Homo sapiens: one gene and its partners. The main gene of each other region encodes a partner of the protein of the gene in region 2 in a complex. Each region holds a gene or a part of one and is shown on either strand. Other genes may lie near its edges. A codon is read from its position in the direction of its gene.

Evidence for each region.
Region 1: ACTR3 (region 2) and ARPC5 share a complex: the UniProt entries of both Homo sapiens proteins name them as parts of the arp2/3 complex.
Region 3: the proteins of ACTR3 (region 2) and ARPC3 are in contact, whole or in part, in a cryo-EM structure (PDB 6YW6), measured with the Homo sapiens proteins. Residues at the interface, in NP_005712.1 of Homo sapiens: Phe203, Gln206, Asp210, Arg211, Glu212, Leu238, Val239, Phe242, Asn243, Ile253, Asp270, Gly272, Tyr273, Glu286, Phe287, Pro290; in NP_001265485.1 of Homo sapiens: Tyr47 (codon at 37), Tyr48 (codon at 34), Lys50 (codon at 28), Ala51 (codon at 25), Phe54, Phe55, Lys56, Lys158, Trp159, Thr161, Cys162, Phe163, Val164, Lys165, Arg166.
Region 4: ACTR3 (region 2) and ARPC1B share a complex: the UniProt entries of both Homo sapiens proteins name them as parts of the arp2/3 complex.

The regions. Positions count from the first base shown.
Region 1 is NC_000001.11:183,625,775-183,632,799, forward strand, and holds part of ARPC5 (actin-related protein 2/3 complex subunit 5), read right to left. Parts: intron 4,864-7,025; coding exon 4,687-4,863; intron 1,821-4,686; coding exon 1,758-1,820; 3' UTR 1-1,757. UniProt on the Homo sapiens protein: Component of the Arp2/3 complex, a multiprotein complex that mediates actin polymerization upon stimulation by nucleation-promoting factor (NPF).
Region 2 is NC_000002.12:113,885,650-113,893,088, forward strand, and holds the start of ACTR3 (actin-related protein 3), read left to right. Parts: upstream 1-4,439; 5' UTR 4,440-4,630; coding exon 4,631-4,674; intron 4,675-4,948; exon of another isoform or gene 4,949-5,129; intron 5,130-5,243; exon of another isoform or gene 5,244-5,343; intron 5,344-7,439. UniProt on the Homo sapiens protein: ATP-binding component of the Arp2/3 complex, a multiprotein complex that mediates actin polymerization upon stimulation by nucleation-promoting factor (NPF).
Region 3 is NC_000012.12:110,440,320-110,447,344, forward strand, and holds part of ARPC3 (actin-related protein 2/3 complex subunit 3), read right to left. Parts: intron 5,233-7,025; coding exon 5,133-5,232; intron 70-5,132; coding exon 1-69. UniProt on the Homo sapiens protein: Component of the Arp2/3 complex, a multiprotein complex that mediates actin polymerization upon stimulation by nucleation-promoting factor (NPF).
Region 4 is NC_000007.14:99,377,727-99,384,751, forward strand, and holds part of ARPC1B (actin-related protein 2/3 complex subunit 1B), read left to right. Parts: intron 1-7,025. UniProt on the Homo sapiens protein: Component of the Arp2/3 complex, a multiprotein complex that mediates actin polymerization upon stimulation by nucleation-promoting factor (NPF).

The DNA of each region.
Region 1 (7,025 bases), on a different chromosome or scaffold from region 2:
TTGCCTGGAAGTGTTTTAAAGTGGGAATCTAGTCAGGTGAAGATCGAAAGCAAACAGAAGTCGCTGTGAGTAGGTAAGTACAAGAAATAGATTTGAGGTGAAAGAAAGAGAATTTTGGAGGCTGGGAGTGAATGACTGCAGCTGCTAAGCTACTTTGCACTTTCTAGTCTAGGTCTTTGGGCAGTGATACTACATATAGGTATTCAGCTGCCATCCAGAAGGCTATGGAATCACTCCAAAGGCTTCAGTAGTGCTCTGACATCATTCATGACTCTCTTCTCTATCATCTTATATCTATATAGTCTTATAAAAACCCTACCAAACTGTTCTTGTTAAGAGTACAGTACTTGGTGGTAGAAGCAGAAAACCTTTCCTCTTAATTAACCATACATTCATAATTGTTAAAGTCAGAGAAAAATAAATTATTCAACACTGACATTTTATTTTCTGAAGTTTTATCATTTTTACAAAACAAAACAAAATGAAACAAAAAGCAGGTATCAAAAACAGCAAAGAGTTTATAGAATTTCTGCACCAGTTTGCACATAAGTCAGTGATTACAAAACTGGCATCCAATGTAAATACTAAGCACAAGCTCACTTCCCTCTTGGTCAGGTGGTTTGTTTTAGAGCTACTCGATATTTATAACTTTTTATAAGCACCGGTCATTTTTTGAGAACTGATTTGGTTTGTCCAACAAAGTAAACAATTTTTTGCTGTGTGGCAGTTTCTTTTTTTAGAAAACACTGAGCTAAAACACAGAATGTGTATTTGTTTGGATCTGAACCAAATCTTTTGAGATCCCAACTACCCTGAAGAACACTGAAGACATTTACGGGGCATATTAAATGGTATCTTAAATACTAGTTGTATACCTCATAATGTCTAAGGCAGCTATTATATTTCTAAAGAAAGTAGCATTTCATTCAGAGGCTGCCCAGAGTTTAAATTACACCATAGTTTTTCTTTCTTTCTGCAAATCATTCTTTCTGATTTGCAGTTTTTTCCAAACAGAGCCATATTAGTGGAACAAAAGTTTGATGTTCATGCCCAACAAGCTCTGATATTTTATGGATACATTTGTATAAAGCAAGACTTCTTGCTCTGAACCCTGGGTGACCACAAATAAATTGAGGGGCCATGATTATTGGATGCTGAGAGAAAGTAGCATACTTAAACCCACAGTACAGATAATCAGGAGGCAAGCAAAAACAAAGCTATAACTTAGCAGTGGTATTCACCCACCACTTATTCCAAAAACATATTTTGCTTATTAAATAAGGGAAATATGGTCCAGTTTTGCAATGTTAATAGCTGCCAGTCTCTCATATTTTTTATAAATATCATTTCCTGACTAGCAATGAGCTAGGAAACTGGCCTCAAATTCTGACCAAATCTCTCAGTATTAGTTAAAAATAATACAAAACAAAACAGAACAAAAAACCAGCCAACAGGGGTTAAAAGTTGCACAATTAAACTTGAATGTAAATTATACTATATACAGATTGGTATAAACATCACTGAAATGGTTTTGAAAGGATGAAACACTTCTATTTTAACACAATTTCTTCTATATTATCCCAATTTTCATTAAAGGACAACTGATATGTAATTTTTTTCTTTACAGATATGAAAAAGCAAGAAGGCAAAGCTGAGAGAAACAGATGCTACCCACAGGGCAGCGGTGGCATTTGGTTGTTTTGGTCTTTGTACCAGCAATTCCCACTCCCGAGGCAGATAATCCACTTCCTGCCAGACTACACAGTTTTTCTTGCAGTCAAGACACGAACAATGGACCCTACTCCTCCAGCAGCAAGTGCCTAAAAACAAACCAAGATGTAAATGTTGACAGAATAATAAAAGGTCAATTCTCATATTTGGTAAAACATTTTTCTTAAAGAAGGAATGGGCACTGCTATAGACCCTGAATTTATTAGTTAACAAATAATAAATTCTTGAGCACCAATTATGCACCAGGTACTGTTCTTGGCACTGAGGTTACAGTAATAAACAAAACCTTGAAAGTCCCTGCCCTCATGAAGTTACATTCTAGTGAGATACTAGTTTACATTTTAGTACATTAATTCTAAATAATGTTTTAAAAAATCTGCAGCATAGGCCGGGCGCGGTGGCTCACGCCTGTAATCCCAGCACTTTGGGAGGCCGAGGCCGGCGGATCACGAGGTCAGGAGATCAAGACCATCCTGGCTAACATGGTGAAACCCCGTCTCTACTAAAAATACAAAAAATTAGCCGGGCGTGGTGGCGGGTGCCTGTAGTCCCAGCTACTCGGGAGGCTGAGGCAGGACAATGGTGTGAACCCAGGAGGCGGAGCTTGCAGTGAGCCGAGATTGCGCCACTGCACTCCAGCCTGGGCGACAGAGCAAGACTCCGTCTCAAAAAAAAAAAAAAAAAAAAAAAAAAAAAATCTGCAGCATAGTGTTCCTGCTCAAAACAGGTGGACATTCTGCATTTCTCATTCTCACCACATAGTCAGAAGAAAATTCAAACTGGGATCAACCATCCCAACTTCCACTTCGATTAGTCAGCCTTTGTCAGATTTTTTTTCTCCCAAAGAAAGAAGGTATTGTTTAATAGCTAAGAACTTAGAAACTTTAACTCTGACTCTAATTTGAAAAATAGAGAGTAATGATCAAGTATTAGGAATCTGAGCTCTGGTTTCTTTCTGTTCAAAAAATATTTATGGAATACCTTTGTATACTGAGTACTGTGCTAGATGCTGGGGATACAAAAGTGAACAAATACAGCATTTTCTGGTCTAGCATGAGGAGACAGACATATAAACAGGTAATTTTAATCTAATGTATGAAATGAGAGTTGTGCTGCAGGTGCTATTAAAGCACCAGGGAGAGGCTTATACCCAGATTAACAGTATAGAGGAATGTTTCAGCTAAGGCTTCATGGAGGAAATGACACATTAAAAGAATGAGTAGGTGACAGGCTAACACCAGAAAATCATGAGCAAATGTATGGAGGTGTGAAACAATATGGTGCATTCAGGAAAAAGGCTGGCATTGCTATAGCCTGAGGGGAAGAATGACATGGAAGATGAAGCTAGACTTGGGAACTTTGACTTTATCCTGCAGGTGACTGACAAGGGCAATTTTGATTTTAAAGATATCATTTTGATGGCTGGGTGGAGAACAGATTTGAAGGAGGCAAAACTGTTAACTGGGAAACCAGTCAGGAAGCTATGGCAACAGACTGGGAGAGATGCTGTGAACAGCTGCATTAGATACGCTTGAACAGATAGATTTCAGAAATACTTCGAAGATTGGTAAAAACTGGTGACTGACATTTGGAAGAAATGAAGACTTCACACATGCCTCAGTTTCCTCAGTGACAAAAGAGGAATAATAGCAAGCATTTCCCTCCATTTTTATGAGGATTAAATGAGTTAATATTTATAAAGTCCTTTGAAGAATATGTGGAATATAATAAGTAATCAATGTTCACTGCAATCTTGAGGCTATGCTAGAACTACGCTGCTTGGGTTTTAAAGCTAGCTTTTCATCTGTAAATTGAGGATGATAAAGATATTTATATACTTCACAGGGTTGTTGTAAAGGTTAAATAAAACATTAATAGTATGGTACCTGGCAACAGAAAGTGTTCCATGAATAGGGTGCCATATAAATTACTACCCAAATTGGTGCATTTTAGAGTAAAAGGGGGAACTATTGTTTTACTATGTGCTTTTTTCTTATGTTTGTGTTTTCACTCAGATACACTTCAAACACTCAATATTTTTATGACTGGTTCTATTTACATGTTATCCAGTTTTTTACCCAAAGCTCAAAATCACTTATACTCTTTTGACAGATGATGTACCAGCATCTACTTACATTGCAAAATATACACATGAAAATAGAAAAACATGATTTAAGAATTCTTGATCCTCCAAACTCCTAATTCTTTAAAAAAGTTGTAAAATATCTAACACAAAATTTGCCATTTTAACCATCTTTAAGTGTAAAATCCATTGGCATTAATTATATTCACAATGTACTGTAGCCATCACCACTATCTGTTTCCAAAACTTTTTTACCACTCCAAGGAGGAACTCTGTACCTATTAAGCACTAACTCCCTATTCCTTGCTTTCCCTACTTCCTAGTAACCTCTAAGGACTTTCTGTCCCTTTGTGTTTGCCTATCCTAGATTATTTCATATAAGTAAAATTATAAAATATTAGTTCTTTTGTGTTTGGCTCATTTCACTTGGTATGTTTTCAAGGTTTATTAATGTTATAGCATGTGTCAGAATGTCATTCCTTTTAATGGTTGAATCATATTCCATTGTATGTATGTACCACAATTTAGCTGTTCATCTGTTATGATCCTTGTGTTGTTTTCACCTTTTGGTCACTGTGAAAGAATTCTTGATTTGTATTGCTTATTTTCTTTTACAAAGTTTTGATTTAATTCAGAGTTCAAGATTATGTTTAATTACTAATAATCATTGTTGAATAAACACAAGTGTTGGAATCAGAATCTCTTAAGACCAAGGCTAGTAAACATAAATATGAACTATCCTTTTCATGCATTTTATTTGTAATAACAAAAATGTACAACAAATCAAAATGGTTATTTAGGTGAGAGAGGTTGTCATTGTCATTCCCTATTGTAAAAGAACCAGTCATATAGATTTATAATTCATAACTTACCTTTTCATGCCATTGCAGTAACATAGCACTGCTATTGTCAGACGGGCTCTCAAATCCTTTATAAATATACTTCATTAGGAGATCCACACCATTCTTGTCCAGAGATTGAACTGCCTTTTCTATATCATTAGCTTTAAAAGAGATGAGCACCTTCAAGACAATGCTGCCTGCCCGGTCCTGGTGGGTCAATAAATAACAGAACATTTAGACATATCTGTATGAGGAGGGTTTAGAATTTCAGAAAGTCTACACTATGAATGTGACATTTGAGTAAGGACCTGAAGGACGTGAAAGAAGGCTTGGGATAACTGAGGAAAGTGTTTCAGACAGAGGAAAGAACAGTGCTATTAGTGTGTGTTCAGTGTGTTCCAGGAACAGAAAAAAACCCAATGTGGTTGGAGTGGATTGGTGGGAGAAAAGCACGTGAGTAAGTCAGAGGTTATGGGAGGACAGATCGTGTAAGGCCTACAGGCATTGTAAGGAGTTTGGCTTTTACTGAGAGAAATGAGAAGACATTGGAAGGTTTTAAGAGCAGTGCCATAATCTGACTCACATTTTAACAGGATTGCTTTGGCATCTATGTTACAGAAAATAAGCTGTGGGAGTAGGGGATAAGGTAGAAGCAGGGAGAGCAATTAGGAGGCAATTGCAATAATACAGGCTGGATGTGGTAAGCATAGTAGCAGTGGAGGTGGTAAGAAACTAGACAGACTATTAACATAATTGAAGGCAGAGCTGAGAGGATTTGCTAACAGATCAATGTGATAATTTAACAATTTATTAAAACAACATTTAAATTTATGTCTTGATCTTAAAAAAAAAAAATCCCAACAAAACGGCCGGGTGTGGTGGCCCACAGCTGTAATCCCAGCACTTTGGGAGGCCGAGATGGGCAGATCACCTGAGGTCAGGAGTTCGAGACCAGCCTGGCCAAAATGGTAAAACCCTGTCTCTACTAAAAATACAGAAATTATCCAGGCATGGTGGTGTGTGCCTGTGATCCCAGCTACTCGGGAGGCTGAAGCAGGAGGATTGCTTAAACCCGGGAGGCGGAGGGTGCAGTGAGTTGAGATTGCACCACTGCACTCCAACCTGGGTGATAGAGTGAGACTCCGTCTCAAAAAAAAAAAAAAAAAAAAAAAATTCCCAACAAAACAAGGAGGCAGATTTGCAGTTTCACCTTGAATTATCCTTCAGAAGTAATTTTTTCTTAAAAACTTTTTTATTTAAAAATTTTAATAAACCAAGCTGTCTTAAAAGAAAATTGACTGTAATTTATATGAATTGACTGTAGATATGAAATATAGTGATGTTCATTAATAATGATCTTTTTTCTTTGGCAAAAGCCTGCTTCAAAAGCAGTTATTTTCTTACCCATCCGGCCAAGCAAAGGAAACACTTAACTGACCTTTTCAACAATTCGTTTCTCCTTCCATTCAACACAAAGTGATACCTCCAGCATTCCTACTGGTCAGGATTTCACAGAATGTTTCTACCACCTACTGTTATCTTTGGTTTAAAGACTGCAATTACCAGATTTAGAAAAATATCTTTGCATCCACGGTAAAAATGAAATTTCAACGACAATCTTTACAACTTGTAAAAACCAAAGAAATTTTCCCCAATAAAAAATTATGTTACCTAGATAATTATTATGCATTTACCTAAGTTATTACTTACTACTATTCAATTGAGATTCTTGAAGCTCCTAGGATGTATGAATAGCTATGGACAACGGGGTTGATGCTATGGGCATCATTTTAAATAAATACGTAAATAGGTTAAGAATTAGTAAAAGACTGCAGAGAATGTAAGTTGCACAACTGTTCTGAAGGGCAATTTGGCAATACTGCATACCAAAAGCCTTAAAAAAAAGTGCATTCTTTGATCCAGTAATTCACTGCTAGCAATTTACTCAAAGAGAACAATTAAAAATTTACCAAAAAATATTGATTTCAGTGGTTTACAATAGGAAAAAAAAAGTCAGTCTAAATATATAACAAAAGATTAGTTATGTATACACTGCAGCTTATCCATATACAAGTGTTAAAAATGCTATAAACTTATTGCGAAGGAAAGCTCATGTACATTGCATATAGCTGAAAAAGCACGTTATAAAATTTCATTCTTAAAAAAACAAAAGGGAACTCTGTAACAATACAGCAAGGCCCCAAAGTAGTAACTGTTATCTCTGGGTGCTGGGACCACAAACCACTATCTTTTTAACCTTCTCATATGTCTGAGCTTTCTATAATAAGTATTTAGTATTTGTATGGTTTTAAAAAATCTTTAAAAAGCAATTACAATCTGTTTATTTTTGTAAAGGTTTAACTTATTTT
Region 2 (7,439 bases):
AGAGAGAAGACAGTTTTCACAGTCCCTCCCCTCTGACCACTAGGCTGCTTGGGGTACTTTTACAACTTACCTGCTCTGAATTAAGGCTCTCTGTGAATCTGATTCATCTGCCAATTTGCAAACAGTCAGCCCTGTAGTACGTACCTAAGTTGATTTTTAAAATACTATTTCTCATCTTAAAATAATGGAAATTGAGTGACATAAATTTCCTGGACACTTTTTAAGATCCAAAGACAATTTGCTAATTTGTCGTTACAATTAAAGAGCCCCCCAAAAGGCGTAAGAACTGGATTTTGACTTGGACTTCTGTTCCTTAGTTTCTTTAACATATTGGGGGCCGGGAGTGGTGGCTCACACCTGTAATCCCAGCACTTTGGGAGGCCGAGGCGGGCAGATCACGAGGTCAGGAGATTGAGACCATCCTGGCTAACACAGTGAAACCCCGTCTCTACAAAAAATACAAAAAAAAAAAAAAAAAATTAGCCGGGTATGGTGGCGGGCGCCTGTAGTCCCAGCTACTCAGGAGGCTGAGGTAGGAGAATGGCATGAACCCAGGAGGCAGAGCTTGCAGTGAGCCGAGATCGCACTACACTGCACTCCAGCCTGGGCGACAGAGCAAGATTCCATCTCAAAAAAAAAAAGAAAAAGATATTGGGAAAACTCACTTAAACTCTATGGGCTTCTGTACCACTAAGGCTTCTCAAATTTGATGCAAGTAATGGGAACTTGCTGTGGCTAACTTGAGCCACAGGAGAAGGATACTGCAAGACTCACAAATGCTTGAAAGTTTCGGAACAGGTTTGGAAATGGGTAAGAACCAAGGACCGGGTTGACCTGAACTGAAAGGAAATTGAGGTGCTATTAGGGACAAATATGAAATGAAGGATGAACTGTCTCTGACATCCTTTGCTTCTGTGTTTGGAGATGAGTAAGCAGGGAGTGGGTGCATATGCAAACAGGGTGGTCAGAAATGCTTTGGCCGGATGTGTGACTGAAGGCTATGTGCAGCTGAGGAAGGCTGGGCCACCACAGTAGCAGAGAGGCTGACCAATTTGGCATGCAGCAAGCAGGAAGTAGAAGGGATCTTAAGCAAGCAAAGTGTTTGGGTAGACAAGATTATGAGGAATGAGCACCAATGACATTTCCAACAAGCACTGAAAGCTTCCAAATGCTTCTAACAGTTACTGCCTGTACAAACACAGGACAGTCTTGACTATGTGAGACTGTGACAGTTTCCTCATGCCTATGAAATGAGAGACAGTACTTAGCACTGACATGAGCTTCATATTTGAAGGCAGCAAACTACTGAACCACATGTAGCTTCCGAAATCAAAAGATGCAAACTGGCAGACCACAGGTCAGATATGACATGCAGAAAAAAATTAGTTACTATCTTAGCCTAGTTTGTGCTGCTTACAGAATATCAGAGACTGGGTACTTTATAGAGAACACAAATTATTTTTCATAGTTTTAGAGGCTGGGAAGTCCAAGATCAAAGGGCCATCATCTCGTGAAGGCGTCCCTGCTGTGTCAAAACATGGTGGAAGGCATCACATGGGCAAAAGAGAGAGAGGGAAGCGGGGGCAAACTCCTTTTTATCAGGCACCCAGTCCTGTGATTCATTCATGAAGACAGTGTCCTCCTGGCCTAATCACCTCTTAAAGCTCCCACCTCTCAGCACTGTTGCACTGGAAATTATATTTCTCACACATGAACTTTGGGGAACACATTCAAACCATTACAGTTACCAAAGATAAAAATGCAGATTTCAGATTTCTCTTGGGGAAGAAAAAAGGCTCTGGCAATACCAGGGCTGTATTTCCACATGGCAACAGTTGTCTGTTGCCTTCTGTTGGGTTGTGGGCTCTCACATTGCCATACCCTCCTCATGGCCCCCTTCACTCATAACAGTACCTGCCTAGACCTCGAAGCACTAGTTTCCAACCCTGCTTGAGTTAACTACTTCCATGACAACTGTGCAAGGCCAGAGTGTGGGCAGCTACCTTGAGGGCCACCGGCATGGGCTGCCCAAGTGACCGAGGGCACTAACCTCTGCTCTCGAAACTTCTTTGGTAGGATCTCTTCACTCCTGACTTACTACTTGTAACTGCTGGAAACAACCATTTATTCTACCCCTACTAAACCACATCTGTCTTTTCTGTCAGAGCCAATCTTCAAGCATATGCTTCCTCAAAAGACTTTAATTACCAGGTAGTAGAAGCGGCAGCAAAGAGTCCCCATCTAGCATCTTCTAAAATGTAGTGGAGAAACCAACGACAACGAATCTGAGACAACCAGTTGTTTGACTTCTCTGAAAACAACCTCTAAAAAAAGCCTTCTCTCGTGAATAGCTGCAGACATGCTGGGCACTAATTGATGATGATGCCCTTTAGTGAGTCTCCTCTGCACATACCTGATTCCATTTGGATGCTGGCCCTCACATACTTCTATCTGCGAACTCCGGAACACAGAATATCATACAATGTATGATTCAATCTGGACTCTGCTGGAGCCATTCTCTACAAAGCAGACACAACTTTTTCTTGCCTAAATCCTTTCAAGTTGCTTTATTTTTATTTTTAAACTAATTACCATAAATCTAATTTATCAAGCTGCTTTTAAGATAAACTTTAAAATGCTTAGAGCAGTCTACAAATTCTTGCACTGTTTCACTCTTCCTTATCTCTCAGTCTTCATCTCCCATTGCATCTTCTCTGACTCTTTCATATGGATCTTCTTTCAATTTGTGGAAGAAGCCAAGCTTGTTCCTGCCTCAGGTCCTTGACACTTGCTGTTCACTCTCCTGGGAGACTCTTCCCCCCATCTTAGCTTTTAAATACCAGCTGGTCAGACTCCTTACCTGCCTTCCACCTTCCTCTCATTCTCCCACTCCTCGCCTTCATTTCTCAGAGTCCTCCGCTCTCTTCTTTCTATTGCTCTTAACACAATTTGTCTGTTTTCCGCTAATCTGTAAACTCTACAAGAGCACTTAACTATTTTGCATCCCACCGAATATTCGGAGTCAGCACAGACCCCGTCATAATAGAGTAGGTAAGCAATGCTTACCTGTCAAATGAATGAATGAAACACCCGATTCATCCCCCAAGCCAGCTTAATACATTAGATGATCTTATGGACTGAATAAGACATCCCTCCTTTTAAAGAATATTTTTGTTTTAGCTTCACATCAGCAAACCCCGAACGGTTCATCCTAAGATAAGCCTGGTAGAGAGGAAAGATACTAACCTTCTAGGGTCCTAAAGTGGAACTAGGAACTTATTAGATATGCACATTCTCAGGCATTATTTCCGATAGCCCAGTCAGAGAATTCTGGGGGTATGGCCCAGCAATCTGTTTTAACAAACCTTTCAGGTAATTCTGATACACACTAAAGTTTGAAAGGTTTCTTTAAGGCTTTCCAGTTTTCTTTTCTTTTTTGGAGGGATGGGGGGGGGTCTCCCCATGTTGCCCAGGCTGGTCTCGAACTCCTAGCCTCAAGCTATCCTATCCTCCCACCTCGGCCTTCCAAAGCATTGAAATTACAGGCATGACCCACTGCGGCTCGCCTCCGTTTCTAACTTAAAAAAATTTTCTTTGGAGGGGAGCCTTAATCCTTTCTATTATCCTGCTAGTAGAATCTTACTACTCCTGAGGGTAATCTTTGTCATAATCCAAAAGCCTTGAATAAAGGCCTATTTGTATAGTTATGCAGAATATATTCCTGGGAGGTTTGCCTTCCTAGGAGCACAGGTCGGCCCTGGGAGGTGGGGGTTGGGGGGCAGGGCTGCATTCTAAAGTCCTGTAACAACGCACAAGTACAACTGAATAGAACTCGGAACAAAGGCATCAGGGCCACGGTGCAAGTCTTTGTTCATCCGTTCCCCGACTGCTCACCCTGTCTGATACCGCTCTTTTCCACCCAGAAAAGCAGCCACTCAAGTTTTAAGAATGGATGTATGCCGCGGACGTTTTCGATTAGGCCGTTTTCTCTCAGGCACTGGAGGATATTCGTGGCTGCAGGAGGCGCTTCCACCCTTTCCTCAACCTAGCAAAGAAGTAACTGAAACTAACCCAAGGGTTACAACCGAAAAGCCCCTTCCAGCTTCAGAAGCAGAACTGGAAGCTCGGATAGACTTCTCCGCCTCTACACTCCTGGAAAACCCGCAGTGGATTTCACCAACTTCAGGATCGGAGCCCAGGCAGGCGAACGTACCTTATTGCGCATGCTCGCTAGCCCCTCCCGCTCGGAGCGGAAGGGGGAGCGCTGGGGGCCTGGGCCTGGCCTGGCCGGGGCGTCGGCACCGGCGGCCATCTTGGCTTCCCGGGGAAAGGCGGCGTGAGGGGAAGAAGTTGTAGGGTGGGGGCAGGAGTGAGGAGGAGGGAAGAGAGAGGGGGAGGAGGCCGCGGCGGGGCAGGGCGGGGACTGCCTGCCTGCCTGGGTTGCGGAAGTGATAGCCGCCGACCGAGCCTGCTGCTTTCTTGCTACTGCTTCGGCTTCCCGGCTACCCCCCGGACGGTGAAGGCGGCCCAGCTGTGGATGGTCAGATAGCCCTTGTCTCCCGCCGCCAATCTCTGGCCCCTAGCAGCACGGAGCAGACGGCGGCAGCAGCAGCAGCAGGCGAGGAGGAAGATGGCGGGACGGCTGCCGGCCTGTGTGGTGGACTGTGGCACGGGGTAAGGGGGCTTACGGGCGGGGGTGGGGAAACTGAGGCGGAGGAAGGAAGATGGCGGGGGAGGGAGGAGGCCGGGAAATGAATGGTGCGGCGAGGTGCCGCCGCCGGCTGTCAGTCCTAGACCCGCCGGCCAGCGAGGGGTGGGGCCCGCAGCCAGGGCCTCGCGGGTCCCCTCGTTTCTCCCTCCTGGGACTGGGGCGGGGGCGCGGGCCCGAGATTCAACCCCCAACCCTCCCAGCGGCTTTCTCCGCGCGACCCCTCCCGGCCCTTCCCCCACTACGGTGGGCAGCGCCGCCCAAAGGGCGCTGGGGACGGTCGTCTTGGGGGTGGTCCCCGGGCCCGACCCATCCGGCTTTCCTTTCCCTCCGCGCCCGTTTTTGCCAGTCGGTTTGGGGACCCAGGGGCCGAGCTCGGGGACTGGCCTGGCAGGGGAGCTAGAAAAGAGAAGCGCTCCTGGTAGGTTTGACAAGATCGCTGTGACAACATTCTGCCCAGGGTGTGGGTGGGGAAAGGGAAGAATCGGACTCTGAAAATGGGAACCTACAGTGGGGCTTTCATTTGACCACCCACCTTCTCCTTTCGACTCCTGGTCATTTCCATCTCCCTCTGCGTTTTAACCGGTGAACCAAGTCACATTTTAATTCGAGGGAGAAAGATGTCATGTGTTACTTCTGTAGCCTCAAAAAAGTCCCCCAGTGAGCAAGCGCGCTGCAACTTCCTTAGTTTTGTCAAAGCCGCTTCCTGCTTTCAGTCTTTTATACCCTTATAAGGTAGTTTTTAGTTTCCAACCTGAGCACATCTTACTAGAACTTTTAAGCAGGTTTTAAAGAGACTGAATTACCGGTGCTTGGTGTCCATTTATATGACTTAAAAAAATGTACTTATGTTTCATGGAGTGGGGGAAAGGAAGCACCCTGGAAAATAAACTAATTTAAGTTGTATTCGTTCATTCTGTGATGGTATCTTGAAGGAAGCAGGAAGGTATAGAGGTATATAGGAGGGTGTTTAAGTTGCAAATAGTTACTCGTAGATATGTAGGGTAGTTTGCGAAAATGTAGAGTGGCTTTAAAGTGTGGTCGTTCATTTTGTATTAATAGACGTTTTAGAGAGTTGTACCACACTCATAACTGCATAGAGAATAGACTACCCTTATTTTTATGTAGAATCACTGCTTCAGGATGACATATAGGAAAGTGGTTTTTTTTTCTGTGCTGATGACATCTCTCCAATTCCCAGAACACTCCCAGTTTTTTTTTTTTGAGGGGGAAGTCAGTAAGAGGTGGACTGTCAGGCTTTTTTTTTTATTATTAATTATAATTATTGATTTCATTATTGTTACTTAAAAGATTGTGTGTCCTTCACTCTTTATGTGAAATTTCTTTAATCTTCATTCTCATAACTAGCTAGTGTGGCAGTTTCTAAAATCCCAGTTAGGTAGAGAGAAACCACCAACTTCTTAATATTCTCCTAGGAAAACACTAGCCTTGGAACTTCTATGTATTTTTTTGATGAACACTTTATTTAAAAGTTTTTCCTTAATTCAGTCTCATTTCTCTGAACCAATAATTTTTTTTATTTCTCCCTTCTTAGTCTAATTGGTGAGTATTTTTATGTCTAGGTTCAGTTTTAAAATTAGATTTGGCCTGAGTCAGTAGGATAGGACTTTTCAAATGTGTTTTGTTAAAGTGACGAATATTGCTACATAATTAATGCTTTAGAAATTACTGCGTTTTCAAAAAAATAGTGTAAATAATTGTGGCCCTGAGAAATAATATGGTAACATCTCAAGTAGTATGTTACTTTTCTAATCTCCATTTTCCCCCTTTTGAAATAGTTTCGAATTAGTATACAAGATGTTTCATTGAGATAAACTGTCCTTAAGTGACCTCCTTTCCTAAAGGGCAACCTTGAATTTAAAACATGCTGAATGACCAGTAGGATCGGGAAGAGGGGTTCAATTTAACCTAGGCTATTTCTGTTTTAAAATTACGATTATCACAATAGTGTATTTTTAAGTTATTACATTGGTTTCTCCAATAAGGAGAGGTTATTAACTGCACATTGATGATTTGAATGGAACTGATTAGGAGTCCCCTTGCCACCTCACTCTCTTTTACCATTTGTCACAATCTGAAATTCCCCCTTTAGAGTTTCAGTTATTTTGGTTCTCAAAAGCCTTTTTGGTCTTACAAGTTTCCAGTGGTGCCTCCTGGGAAGTTACACCTTCAGCTTTATTTGCACATGGAGGATAAGTCCTTGAGGTTGAGGACCCTGAGATAAACATCTCTAAGTATGGCCTTAACAGGGAGCTTTTACATTTCAAAATTCTGTGGTCCCCGAATGCAAATTGTGCACCTGTAATTTGTCTAATTTTTTTTATGCTTTAGAGAATGCATTCAGCTCTGAGGTCTCTAAATTACAATTACTCACTTAGTTTAAGTAAAAAGTTATAACCTGAATCAGGTTGCTCATTTCATTCATTATATAAATTAGGGGAAAGGTGGCTGAAAAAAAGTGGCCATCTGTAAAACTTGATCGTCTTAGATAGGAAAGCTGTTAAGAGTTAGGAAACTTGAAACTTAAGCCCAAAACTTTTAGGGATCGTCCAGCAAAACTCAACATATGAATCACCTAGATTCAGGTCATAAAAGAGAATACTTATTTTGAAAAGAATTTGAAAAGAAATGCTTCATTCACATTGATACCCTTATCTACACACTTTTTTGGTCTGTATTGGAAAGCATTGTAAAATACAGTTGGGGCACA
Region 3 (7,025 bases), on a different chromosome or scaffold from region 2:
CATAGTTTTTGAAGAAGACATTGGCCTTGAAGTAATAGATGGCTTCATCCACAATATCTGTATCTTTTGCTAAGCAGGACACAAGGGAAGGAGCACAGAGAACATTAGCCAAATACAAAACATAACAACTATCAAAGCCATAAAGGGAAAACACATACAACTGTCAACAGTTGTGGAGTTGAATAAAATAAAATGATCCTATTGAAATACAAAGTTTTTAGAAAATATTTATTTGTTTTTTTTTTGAGACAGAGTCTCGCTCTGTCACCCAGGCTGGAGTGCAGTGGCGTGATCTTGGCTCACTGCAAGCTCTGCCTCCCGGGTTCACGCCATTCTCCTGCCTCAGCCTCCTGAGTAGCTGGGGCTACAGGCACCTGCCACCACACCCCGCTAATTTTTTGTATTTTTAGTAGAGATGGGGTTTCACCATGTTAGCCAGGATGGTCTTGATCTCCTGACCGCGTGATCCGCCCATCTCGGCCTCCCAAAGTGCTGGGATTACAGGCATGAGCCACCGTGCCCAGCCTTTGTTTTTTTTTTTGAGACAGAGTTTCACTCTGTCGCCCAGGCTGGAGTGCAGTGGCGCGATCTTGGCTCACTGCAAGCTCCGCCTCCCGGGTTCACGGCATTCTCCTGCCTCAGCCTCCCAAGTAGCTGGGGCTATAGGCACCTGCCACCATGCTCAGCTATATTTTTTGTATTTTTAGTAAAGACGGGGTTTCACCGTGTTAGCCAGGATGGTCTTGATCTCCTGACCTCGTGATCCGCCCATCTCGGCCTCCCAACGTGCTGGGATCACAGGCATAAGCCACCGTGCCCGGCCAAATTTTTTTTTTTTGAGACGGAGTCTTGCTCCGTCGCCCAGACTGGAGTGAAATGGCATGATCTCGGCTCACTCTGCCTCCCGGGTTCAAGCGATTCTCCTGCCTCAGCCTCCCAAGTAGCTGGGATTATACGCATGTACCACCAGGCCTGGCTAATTTTTGTATTTTTAGTAGAAATGGGGTTTCACCTTGTTGGTCAGGCTGGTCTCGAACTCCTGACCTCGTGATCTGCCTGCCTCAGCCTCCCAAAGTGCTGGGATTACAGGAGTGAGCCACCACCCCCGGATTTTCAGAAAATATTTATAGAAAAGTAGTACATGGTTTATTTTTACAGCTTTATTGTTTTCGTAAAACTTATACATGCTCATTAGAAAATGAAATTCAATCAAAACAGTTTTATTTTTTAGAGAGAGGTCTTGCTCTGTTACCCGGGCTGGAGTGCAGTGGTACAATTATAACTCACCACAGACTTGAATTCCTGAGCGCAAGTGATCCTCCTGCTTCAGCTTCCCAGGTAGCCGGGACTACAGGCATGCACCATGAGGCCTGGCTAATTTTTTTCTTTAAAAATTAAATAAAATTTTTAAAGAAAAGTTTTTAAAGATGGCTGGGCACAGTGACTCACGCCTGTAATCCCAACACTTTGGGAGGCCGAGACGGGTGGATCACCTGAGGTCAGGAGTTTGAGAGCAGCCTGGCCAACATGGTGAAACTGCGCCTCTACTAAAAATACAAAAAATTAGCCAAGCATGGTGGCAGGCACCTGTAATCCCAGCTATTCGGGAGGCTAAGGCAGGAGAATCGCTTGAACTCGCGGGTGGAGGATGCAGTGAGCCAAGATTGCACCATTGCACTCCAGCCTGGGCAACGAGATCAAAACTCTGTCTCCAAAAAAAAAAAAAAAGTTTTTTTTAGAGATGCAGTCTCACTATGTTGCCTAGGCTGGTCTCAAACTCCTGGCCTCAAGTGATCCTCCTGCCTCCTGAGTAGCTAGGATTACAGGCATAAGCCACAGCACCAGGCAAAAAAAAAATTTTTAATTGTCACCTTAATTCCCATTTCCCCAAAAATAACTACCATTAGCATTTGGTGAACATTATTCAAGACGTCTCTCAATGCATTTATAAAAAAACACTGAGACATAGACTAACTTTAACTGCTTCCTAAAAATAAAAAGTATTCAGTCGGGCGCAGTGGCTCACGCCTGTAGTCCCAGCACTTTGGGAGGCTGAGGCGGATGGATTGCCTGAGGTCAGGAGTTCGAGACCAGCCTGGCCAACATGGAGAAACCCTGTCTCTACTAAAAATACAAAAACTAGCCGGGCATGGTGGTACGTGCCTGTAATCCCAGCTACTCAGGGGGCTGAGGCAGGAGAATTGCTTGAACCCAGGAGGCAGAGGTTGCAGTGAGCTGAGATCATTCCACCAAACTCAAGCCTGGGTGACAGAGCGAGACTCCATCTCAAAAAAGTAATAATAAAAAATATATATAATTAAATAAAATAAAAAGTATTCAATATAATTTTATTTGAATTTACATATTATAGTTTCAGAAAAAAACTCAATTATTTAGAACATGTTGAGGTTCAGATACACATCTTTCTTTTTATGAAAACTATGACTTAAAATATACTTGTACAAGCTGTTGTAGGTAGCTCTAGACGGACAAAAGCCAGAAATACTGTCTTGACAAAGACAGATCTCATGACACAATTTGTTTGGCAATTTTTTGTTTTTCTTCTTCTTATTTTAAAAAGGTCAAAATCCCAGGGTCTTGATATCTGGCAGTTGGTTTCAGCAGTGCTGAGACAGTTACTTATACTTCTTGTCTATGACTGTTAACGTTCTCGCACAGCAGAAATGCAAAGTAATCTTGAAGCTTTCATACTCTGCAATTCAGTTGTCTTCATCCCAGCTCATTGCCCTGTGGAAGAATTTCAACAGAACTCTAACTCTAGACTTGTGTTCCTTGCAATTTACTTTTTTTTTTTTTGAGATGGAGTCTCGCTCTGTTGCCCAGGCTGGAGTGCAGTGGTGCAATCTTGGCTCACTGCAAGCTCTGCCTCCTGGGTTCACGCCATTCTCCTGCCTCAGCCTCCCGAGTACCTGGGACTACAGGAGCCCGCCACCACGCTTGGCTAATTTTTTGTATTTTTAGTAGAGATGGGGTTTCACCGTGTTAGCCAGGATGGTCTCGATCTCCTGACCTCGTGATCCACCCGTCTTGGCCTCCCAAAGTGCTAAAGTACTGGGATTACAGGCGTGAGCCACCGCGCCACGCCCTATTTTTTATTTATTTATTTTTTCGAGATCAAGTCTCACTTTGTCGCCCAGGCTGGAGTGCCATGGCACAATCTAGGCCCAGTGCAACCTCCGCCTCCTGAGTTCAAGTGATTCTCCTGTCTCAGCCTCCCATGTAGCTGGGACTACAGGTGCCTGCCACCACAGCTAGCTAATTTTGGTATTTTTGGTAGAGACAGAGTTTCACCATGTTGGCCAGGCTGGTCTCAAACTCCTGACCTGAGGCAATCTGCCCGCCTCAGCCTCCCAAAGTGCTGGGATTACAGGCGTGAGCCACTATGCCTGGCTGCAATCTGTTTTCTTATCTGTGAAAGAAAACTGTCTTGGAGGACTCAATATTGTTTCCAAAAACCAGCTAGTTCTTCTAAATGCAATGACAGGAGGGGGCAAAGGCCAAAGGATTCTGAAATTAGAAGAATACTTGGCACATAAAAGGCATTCTACAGATATTTGTTGAATATAAATGAATTAGTGTGATTAATGCTGTTATTTAGCTCACAGCACAGGCCTCCATTCCAATTCAGGTTTTTTTTTTTTTTCTTTTGAAACAGAGTTTTGCTCGTTGCCTAGGCTGGAGTGCAATGACATGATCTCGGCACACTGCAACCTCCACCTCCCAGGTTCAAGCAATTCTCCTGCCTCAGTCTCCCAAGTAGTTGGGATTACAGGCATGCGCCACCATGCCCGGCTGATTGTTTGTATTTTTAGTTGAGATGGGGTTTCTCCATGTTGGTTACGCTGGTCTTGAACTCCTGAACTCAGGTGATCCACCCACCTCGACCTCTCAAAGTGCTGGGATTATAGGTGTGAGCCATCACGCCTGGCCTTTGCAGTGAAAAAAAATTTTTTTTTTTTTTTGAGATGAAGTCTCACTCTGTCACCCAGGCTGGAGTGCAGTGGTGCAATCTTGGCTCACTGCAACCTCCACCCTCTGTGTTCAAGCGATTCTCCTGTCTCAGCCTCCTGAGTAGCTGGGATCACAGGTGCCCACCACCATGCCTAGCTAATTTTTGTATTTTTAGTAGAGTTGGGGTTTCGCCATGTTTGCCAGGCTGGTCTCGAACTCCTGACCTTAAGTGATCCACTTGCCTTGGCCTTCCAAAGTGCTGGGATTACAAGTGTGAGCCACCGCACCCAGCCTTGTGATTTTCTTTTATGTTATTTTTCTTCTTTCCCAGGCTGTCTTCTTCCTTGTTCCTTTTCCTCAGAATCAAGTAGAGACTGTGGTGACTCACCATATGCATTAAGTTTACTGAGCTTTCAAATGGTGTTGAAAACAAAATTAAGTTTAAAAAAGGTCAAGTCAAACAGTCTGGCAGAGAAATGGGGACTGGATAAGTACCAAATTGGTAATTATAATAATGGTCTTGGAAACCATGAATGGAATTCAGTTCAGACCCTTGCAGGGTACAGGGAAACCATGTCTAACATAATACAAATTATACTGTTGGGAGAACATCTCAGAAAGCATCAGAAGAGTCTCAGACAGTGTCTGAAAAATATTGCGGCTTTCTGAAATAAAATTCAGAAAAGCGGGAATAGACGTAAGTAATGTTACATAGTACACTTCAGATTTAAGATTGAGGTATTGCTAAAAATGAAGATCTTGAAGAATGAATAAAGGAAGTAGATTTAGACGAGGAAGAGGTTAAAATATTTGTTGTTGTTCTTTTCCAGGTTGATGACAGAAAGGATGGGCATGTGGCATTCTAGACGTAACAGCATTAGATTTGTTTGAAAGAACTGATAAACAGTGTCCAGAATTAAGCACATTTCCTCCATTTTCTCAAAAGAGTTTCCTGGAGAAGTCAGAAGAAATAATACAATTTCCTATTAAATGCAACATATAACCACTATCTTGAAAGGTCTAGACCACAGTATCTACCAAGCAAAGTACAAGGGCAATTTGAGAGAGAAGACTGAGCTAAGAATTTTTCTGATTTGATCATTTCAGAAGATTGTTAGGCATTTCGTACCAAAATTTGAAAATAATGGGTTTAGACTTACTCTCTCTGGGGGCAGGTCCTTTGAATTGACTTCTGATAGGCAACAGTGCCATGTTTCCGATGAGTTTGGTATCAGGATCCATGAGAGAAGAGTGGTAAGCCTGTAATGGCAAGCCCAGGAAGAACACAGAAGCAGAAAAAGAGCAAATGTCACTGTGGCAAACAACCTTCCCTTAAAGGAAAAAAAGAGTAAACCACCCAAGATTAATTAGGGGAGGGAGAAGGGATAGCAGCATTGAGGTGCGAGGGCTGGTTCTTTCTGGCTCAAGAAAACCAATTGTTAAATTTTGAGGCATTTTTCAAGCTGGTTGTTAAACACAGCTCTTCTCAAAAATCAAATTATATAAACTTACAATTAAGTAAATGATGTTGGCTGGACGTGGTGGCTCATGCCTGTAATCCCAGCACTTTGGGAGGCTGAGGCAGGCAGATTGCCTGAGCTCAGGAGTTTGCAACCAGCCTGGGCAACACAGTGAAACCCCATCTCTACTAAAATATAAAAAATTAGCCAGGCGTGGCGGCGTGCGCCTGTAGTCCCAGCCATGTGGGAGGCTAAGCTGGAGAATCACTTGAACCCAGGAGGCGAAGGCTGCAGTGAGCCGAGATCGTGCCACTGCACTCCAGCCTGGGCAACAGAGCAAGACTGTCTCAAAAAAAAAAAAAAAGTAAATAATGTTAAAAACAATGATGCTTAAGTATTCATCACTTCTTTTTTTTTTTTTGAGAAGGAGTCTCACCATGTTGCCTAAGATGATCTCAAACTCCTAAGCTCAAGTGTTCCTCCTGCCTCAGCCTCCCAAAGGGCTGGGACTACAGGTGTGAGCCACCACACCTGGCTACTTCCTAATTTTTTTTTTTTTTTTTGAGACAGAGTTTGGCTCTTGTTGCCCAGGCTGGAGTGCAATGACATGACCTTGGCCCACTGCAACCTCCGCCTCCCGGGTTCAAGTGATTCTCCTGCCTCAGCCTCCTGAGTAGCTGGGATTATAGGGATAAGCCACCACGCCCAGCTAATTTTGTATTTTTGGTAGAGACGATGTTTCTCCATTTTCGCCAGGCTGGTCTCGAACTCCCGACCTCAGGTGATCTGCCCGCCTTGCCCTCCCAAAGTGCTGGGATTACAGATGTGAGCCACTGCACTGCACTTGGCCTACTTCCTAATTTTTTTTTTTTTTTGAGACGGAGTCTTGCCCTGTCGCCCAGGATGGAGTGCGGTGGCGCGATCTCTGCTCACTGCAACCTCCGCCTCCTGGGTTCAAGCGATTCTCCTGCCCCAGCCTCCCAAGTAGCTGGGATTACAGGTGCGTGCCACCACGCCCAGCTAATTTTTGTATTTTTAGTAGAGACAGGGTTTCACCATGTTGGTCAGGCTGGTCTCGAACTCCTGACCCCATGATCCACCCGCCCCGGCCTCCCAAAGTGCTGGGATTACAGGCGTGAGCCACTGCACCCGGCAATAACCTAATTTTTAAAAATTACATTTTACTATTGTCTATGTTCTTAAGGTTATTATTACGAAATACTAAATAATGGGGTGCTGCTGTGCATCTCTTCCAATTCTATGTTCGGTGACATCACATTGGTATCTGGCCAAAGTATTTCCACTACAGAAAGACAAACATCATATAAATCAGGGTACCCAGCCCCCAGCTAAACCAAGACCCAAGCACTATCTTTTCAGCTCTGCCACTTCATGGCGTTATGCTTTTGACCAAGACATCATTCTTCTTCTCTTAGCTTGTTTCCAAATTTGTAAAATGAGAAGATATATATTCCCTTCAGTGGGTAGGTGTGTGTTAAAGGAAGGGATAAAAAAAATCACATTTATGAGAGCATTTTGTATGCTGATTCTTAGTTCTGCTTTTTACAAGATGTCTGGCTTTTTATAAGTCAA
Region 4 (7,025 bases), on a different chromosome or scaffold from region 2:
CGAGTTCAAGTGATTCTCTTGCCTCGACCCCCCGAGCAGCTGGGATTACAAGTGCCCACCACCAAGCCCAGATAAATTTTGTATTTTTAGTAGAGAGGGTTTTACCATGTTGGGCAGGCTGGTCTCAAACTCCTGACCTCAGGTGATCCACCTGCCTCCGCCTCCCAAAGTCTGGGATTACAGGTGTGAGCCACCGCACCCGTCGGTTGATAGGTCTTTTCTAATATTAATAATTACGTAGCATCTCAACATGTTAATGTCATAATTTACTCTTTCCATATTGTCACCTGGGTTTTTCCACACTGTCACCATTATAAAGACAGCTATTATAAACATGTTTGCTTTATTTTTTAGATGAGGTTTCACTCTGTCACCCAGGCTGGAGTACAGTGACGAGATCTCGGCTCACTGCAACCTCCACCTTCCCAGCTCAAGGAATCCTCCAGCCTCAGCCCCTCAGATAGCCAGGACTACAGGCGTACAGCATCACATCCCGCTAATTTTTTTTTTTTTTTTGGTAGTTTTTATAGACACAGGGTTTTGCCATGTTGCCCAGGCTGGTCTCCGAACTCCTGGACTCAAGTGATCCACCTGGCTTGGCCTCCCAAAATGGTGGGATTACAGGCGTGAGCCATGGCACCCCACCTGTTTGCTTTTAAAAAAGAAAAATGGGGCCAGGCGTGGTGGCTCACACCTGTAATCCCAGCACTTTGGGAGGCCGAGGCGGGTGGATCACAAGGTCAGGAGTTCGAGACCAGCCTGTCCAACATGGTGAAACCCCATCTCTACTAAAAACAAAAACAAAAATTAGCTGGGCGTGGTGGTGGGCACCTGTAGTTCCACCTACTGGGGAGGCTGAGACAGGAGAATTGCTTGAACCTGGGAGGCGGAGGTTGCAGTGAGCCGAGAATGCACCACTACACTCCAGCCTGGGCGACAGAATGAGACTACATCTCAAAAATAAAAAAGAAAAAGAAAGAAAAATGTGTTGCTGTTTTCTTAGGACCAAATGGGTGTATGTGACCAAAGAATGTTAATTTTCTTTTTCTTTTTTTTTTTTTTTTTTTTGAGATGGAGTCTTGCTCTGTCCTCCAGGCTGGAGTGCAGTGGCGCAATCTCGGCTCACTGCAAGCTCCGCCTTCCGGGTTCACGCCATTCTCTTGCCTCAGCCTCCCGAGTAGCTGGGACTACAGGCGCCCGCCACCACGCCCGGCTTAATTTTTTGTATTTTTAGTAGAGACGGGGTTTCACCGTTTTAGCCAGGATGGTCTCGATCTCCTGACCTCGTGATCCACCCACCTCGGCCTCCCAAAGTGCTGGGAGTATAGGCGTGAGCCACCACACCTGGCCAGAATGCTAATTTTCAAGTTCCTGTTAGTGTTATTCTGTTCTATTAATATTTGGTCCCACCCACTTGTTGAATTGAGTGCCCTTCAGAAGAATTAAACCAATTAGCAACAAATGACAATTTCTCCACAGCTCTGCTAGCATTGAATTTTGTGTGTTTTTGTTTTGTTTGGATGACTAACCGGTGCTTTAATGGTACCTTACGATTGTTTTCATGTGTGTTTCTTGACTTCACTCTGCGTGGTTGGTAAGACTTCAAGAGCAGAGCTGGAGAGGGAAGGATAGGGGTAGGAAGGGCTCTGACCCAGCATAGGAAGTTGAGTAACCGCTTAGCACGGTGCAAATTAGCCTGCTGGCTGCTCTATCCAAGAACTGCCTGAGCTGGGTGGGGACTTCCCAGAGCGCCTGTAATGCTGAGATCTTTCCTCCAGGCAACTCCTCCTTGGTTTAGCCTCTGATACAGCCAAACCTCTGGATTCAGGGAAACCTAAGGAAGCCAGGCAAGAAGGGTCCCGCAGCCTGTGCCTAGTCTAGCCCCAGCCTCATCTGGATTAAGATGGGAGGGAAATATTGGCTGAGGGCACCCAGCCAGTATGAAGACAGCTAGAATGTAAACCCAGCACAGTAAGGGAGAGAGTATCAAGGCCCAGGACTTTAGAGTGCCTCACCACCACCACCCCGCCGCTGGGCAGCCTGAGGCTTTCTTTGCCTGGCACCACCATGCCTGGCTAATTTTTTTTTTTTTTTTCCAAGTGGAGACGGGGTTTTGCCATGTTGGCCAGGATGGTCTCAAACTCCTGACCTCAAGTGATCCACCCACCTCGGCCTCCGAAAGTGCTGGGATTACAGGCGTGAGCCACTGTGCCCGGCTATCCCCTCCTCTCTCTGGTTTCTTAACATCAAACAGGCCCACAGTGCTGGCTCACAGGGCCACAGTGATAGTGGGTTGGTGTCCTGGATCCCTCCCCCAGGAGCCATCACTGAGACCTTATGCTGTCAACACTGGTGGGTGAAGCAGCCCTCGTATTTTTCTCCTGAGACATCCAGAGCAGGGTAATTGGCAGGCGGGGGTGAGCACACGCTGGCTCACGCAGGCTTGGTAGGTGAGAGGTTTTCCTGAGGATGATGAAGTTGGAGTGTCCCCGGCTAGAATCCCTGAGGCAGGAGACTGGAGCCCTGTGGCAGCATTGGCTGAGAGAAGCCACTCCCTTTTTGCTCTCCCACTTCCTCACTGGTAAGATGTGGGGGTTGGGGAGTTATCGCAGAGGCGCTTTGGGTTTCAGCTGCTTTGCAGAAGTTATGGAAAAAGGGAAATGAGTCTTCCTGTCTCTCGCCCCCTTAACACTTCTTTGCCCCATTTAAGGGGTTTGTTCAACAGACTAGGAAGTATTTCTGCTAATTCATGCTGAAGTGTGATTGGCTGATAGGTGTGGTCTCAACCTCCCTCCTCTGCCAGTCACTAGTGTACCACTGTGGCCATCTTTTCCAGCCCCTCCTCTGCCCCTTGAGTATGTCTAGGTCCTAGAAACAGTGGTCAGGGCTCTTCAAGTCCTCTCGGTTGCCCTTGCCCACTGGCACACGTGGGGGTTGCTGTCTTCAGCAGAGCCAGCCACTCCGTCTTGACAGCCAGGGCAGAGATGTGGCTGGGCACACAGCAAGAATGTGACCACTGATGCTGGGATGTCAGAGTCTGTGCATCAACCCAGGGTTCTGAGTCTGGGCTCTCCCACCCTCATCCCCGGAGGTTCCTTCAGTCTGGGCCTCCTGGGGCTGAAAGGGAGGGAAAAATTGGCCTCAGCTGGAGTCCTGGGGCCAACCAGAGCCTGGGTGGAGTGTGAAAGTGGGCTTCTGGCCTTCACCCTGCCCCTGCCCTGCTGGTGACCTTGGACCATGGGGGTTGTCGGGGTGTAGATGAGCACCGTGAATCAGTCACAGGCCTTGAGCTTCTCTCTGCACAGTGCTGGCATCAGATGTGGGTGGTGATGTCCCAGCCTGGGAACACAGGAAACGCTCAGGGAAACCCCCATCAGACCTGCTGACATGGCTGAGGGCGCTGAGATGGTGCTTCCGGGGCCCTCACCTTACACAAAGAGGCCTTATAAGGAGAGAGAGGCTGCAGAGGCAGCCCCAGTGGGTGCCGGGTGCTTGTTCTGGGTAAGGCTGCCCACACGTGCAAAGTGTGCTTGTGGACACAGTGCGCTTGCGTGTGTGCAAGGCTGAACATACATGTGTGCAGGCCTGCAGTGTGCCTGTGTGTGAGGCTCAACACGTGCATGTGGGGAGTATGGTCATGTGTGCAAGGCTAAACATGTGCTTAAAGTGTGGGGAGGTGCAGTGTGCATGTGTGTGTGCAAGGCTTAACATGCAAAGTGTGCTTGTGTGTGTGAGGCTGAACACGCATGTGTTTGTGTGCGTGGCCTGACCCTGCGCTGCGTGTGTCTACTTGCTCAGCAAATGCTGACTGGGGACCCACCGGGGTCCTGTTCTAAGCATGGAGGAAACATGAGGTCCCTGCCCCGTGCATGTACACATGTGCATGTGTGTGTGTCCTGTGCTGCTCCAGGAATCTTCCAGGACATCCTGATACAAGTGAAAGCAAGCGGTTTGGATCTGGAGTGAGCAGGAGGTGGACAGGGCCTTCCAGGCAGTGAGCGCAGGGGGCTTTGTGTTGTGACCTCGGGCAGGCTGGTCACTGAGCCCTGTGGGGCCAAACTGCAGCCCCAGGCAAAGGTCGTTCTGCCTTTCCCTTGTGCCTGGGCCCAGATGCAGTGCAGGATGGGCCGGCCCCTGGGCAGGGCAGTGACGGGGCAGCCACCGGCCTCCTGGGGCATTCAGGGTTCCCAGTCCTGGTTGGCTCCCAGCCCAGGCCCTGAGACCCAACACAAAACTGCCAGTCTGGTGAGGGAGGCAGCCACATTATCTAATGGCTGTCACTGGTGACTCTGGGCAGGTGGCCTCAGCCCCCACATCTGTCATCTGGAGCTGACCTGGAGCCTGGCATCCCTCCCCAAGTGCAGCCAGGCCTCCCTGAAAGTCCAGGGCTGGTGGGAGTGTTGAAGTCAAGAATGTATACAGAGCACCTGGCCAGGCGCGGTGGCTCATGCCTGTAATTCCAGCACTTTAGGAGGCCGAGGCGGGCGGATCACTTGAGGTCAGGAGTTCAAGACCAGCCTGGCCAACATGGTGAAACCCTGTCTCTACTAAAAATATAAAAATTAGGCATGGTGGTGCGCACCTGTAATCCCAGCTACTCAGGAGGCGGAGGTTGGAGTGAGCCAAGACTGCGACATTGCACTCCAGGCTGGGCAACAGAGTGAGACTTCATCTCGAAAAAAAAAAAAAAAAAGGATACTTTTTTTTCTAGAGCTGGCAAGGAGGGAGTATCCAGAAAGTGCTGGATGGTACTAGTTAATACATTTTATTTTAGAGACAGGGTCTGGCTCTGTCACACAGTGGTACAATCATAGCTCACTGCAGCCTCAAACTCCTAGGCTAAGCAATCCTCCTGCCTCAGCTTCCTGAATACCTAAGAATACAGATGTGCACCACCACACCTGCAAATTTTTTTATTTAAATTTTTTGTAGAGATAGGGTCTCACTGTATCGCCCATGCTTGTCTTGAACTTCTGGCCTGAAGCAATCCTCCTGCCTAGGCCTCCCAAAGTACTGGGGTTACAGGCATGAGCCACTGCGCCTGGCCCTATTTAATAAAATTATTTATTTATTTATTATTTTTAAGTTATTTTTTCACACACATTCATTCCTAACCTTTTTTTTTTTTTTTTTTTTGAGACAGAGTCTTGCTCTGTTGCCCAGGCTGGAGTGCAGTGGTGTGATTTTGGCTCACTGCGACCTCTGCCTCTCAGGTTCAACAGATTCTCCTGCTTCAGCCTCCCAAGTAGCTGGGACTACAGGTGTGCGCCACCACGCCCAGCTAATTTTTGTATTTTTAGTAGAGACAGTCTTTCACCATGTTGGCCAGGCTGGTCTTGAACTCCTGACCTCAGGTGATCCGCCCGCCTCGGCCTCCCAAAGTGCTGGGATTACAGGCATGAGCCACCGTGCCTGGCCTCATTCCTAACCTATGTAATGATAATATTTTTGAGGGCTGGGTAGGGTGGCGTGAGCCTGTAGTCCCAGCTACTTGGGAAGCAGAGGCAGGAGGATCACTTGAGCCTGGGAAGTCGAGGCTGCAGTGAGCTGTGATCACACCACTGCACTCCAGCCTGGGCAACAGAGCGAGACCCTTTCTCAAATATACACACACACACACGTTTCTGAGAACGTACTCTGTTGGTCACTAATGGCAATGAAAAATTTGTTCAGCGGATATTTCTTGAGCACCTACTATGTGCTAAGCATTTAAGCAGTGGAAATAGAAACGAGAACAAGATAGAACAAAAATGTGTCTCTGCCAAGCTGGTTCTATTCCAGCAGGGGAGGAAGGCAGCGGGCCAGATCAGTGAGTGCATGTCTGATGGTGACTGCTGAGAAAATTTAATCGGAAATAGGGAATTACGAAGTGCCGGACCGTGGAAGGTGCTGCAGTTTCCAGGGAAGGCCTCCCCAAAAGTTGACATTTGAGTACAGACTTGAGTGGCAGCACCAGAGCGAGAGCCGTGTGTGCCGGTATCTGGGGGAAGAGTGTCACAGGCCTAGGGAACAGCCAGCACGGAAGCCCGAGGCAGGTGCATGCCTGTGTGCCCCAGGATTGGCCTCTGGTTGGCTGGGGAGGCCTGCTCCTCAAAGGGCTGGTATATCACATCCATCACAGGCTAAGAGTAACCGCCTCGTGGTTCCTCCTCATAGAGGCCAGGTGCGGTGTGTCATCTGCTTCCAGCTCTCAGCATCTCTGCTGGGAGGCAGGATTCCTGTTCCCATTTTACAGATGAGAAAACTGAGGTTAAAAGAAGGCAGGTGATGTGTCCCGGGGCATGTGGCTGGGCAAGCAGTGCCACTGGGCTCCTCCACTTCCAGGTCCCTGTGATGCTGGGAAACTGAGTCACGGAGGCGGGGAGAGATGTGTTTGAGGAATTGGGCTGAGACCGTGATCTCACCCCCGTCAGGCCTGGTGGGCTCCTTTGACACTCAGCGGCAGGTGGAGGAGGCTAGGGACAGGCTGGCAGGGGCTGAGCTGGGCTGACGGGAGGATGAGTCGCTGCCCTCTGCCAGGGTTCCCCTTCAGTGCTGGGGCTAGTCTAGAGGGCTGCAGTCAAACATCTCCCTCGTTCTGGCCGAGTGTAGTGGCTCACACCTGTAATCCCAAATACTTGGCAGGTGAGGAGGGAAGATCTCTTGAGCCTAGGAGCTTGAGACCAGCCTGGACAGCATTGTGAGACCCCCCTCTCTACAAACAAATCAAAAATTAGTTGGGCACAGTGGCACATGCTTGTAATCCCAGGAGTTCATGGCTGCAGTGAGCCATGATCACACCACTGCACTCCATCCTGGGCCACAGAGAGAGACCCTGTCTCAAGAAACAAAAATCTCCCTCCTTCAGTTCCCCAAGGCTGGGTCACCCTGGGGCCTCCCCAAGAGCCATCACCCAGGCCTCGCCTAGCCCTGTGCCTCCTCCCAGCCCTGGGTGCAGCCAGTGGATGTCTGGATGGAGAATGGGATGTATCTGTTAAATATCTGCCTTTGCCTCAGCCATGAGCCCCTGCAGACCGGCCACCTCC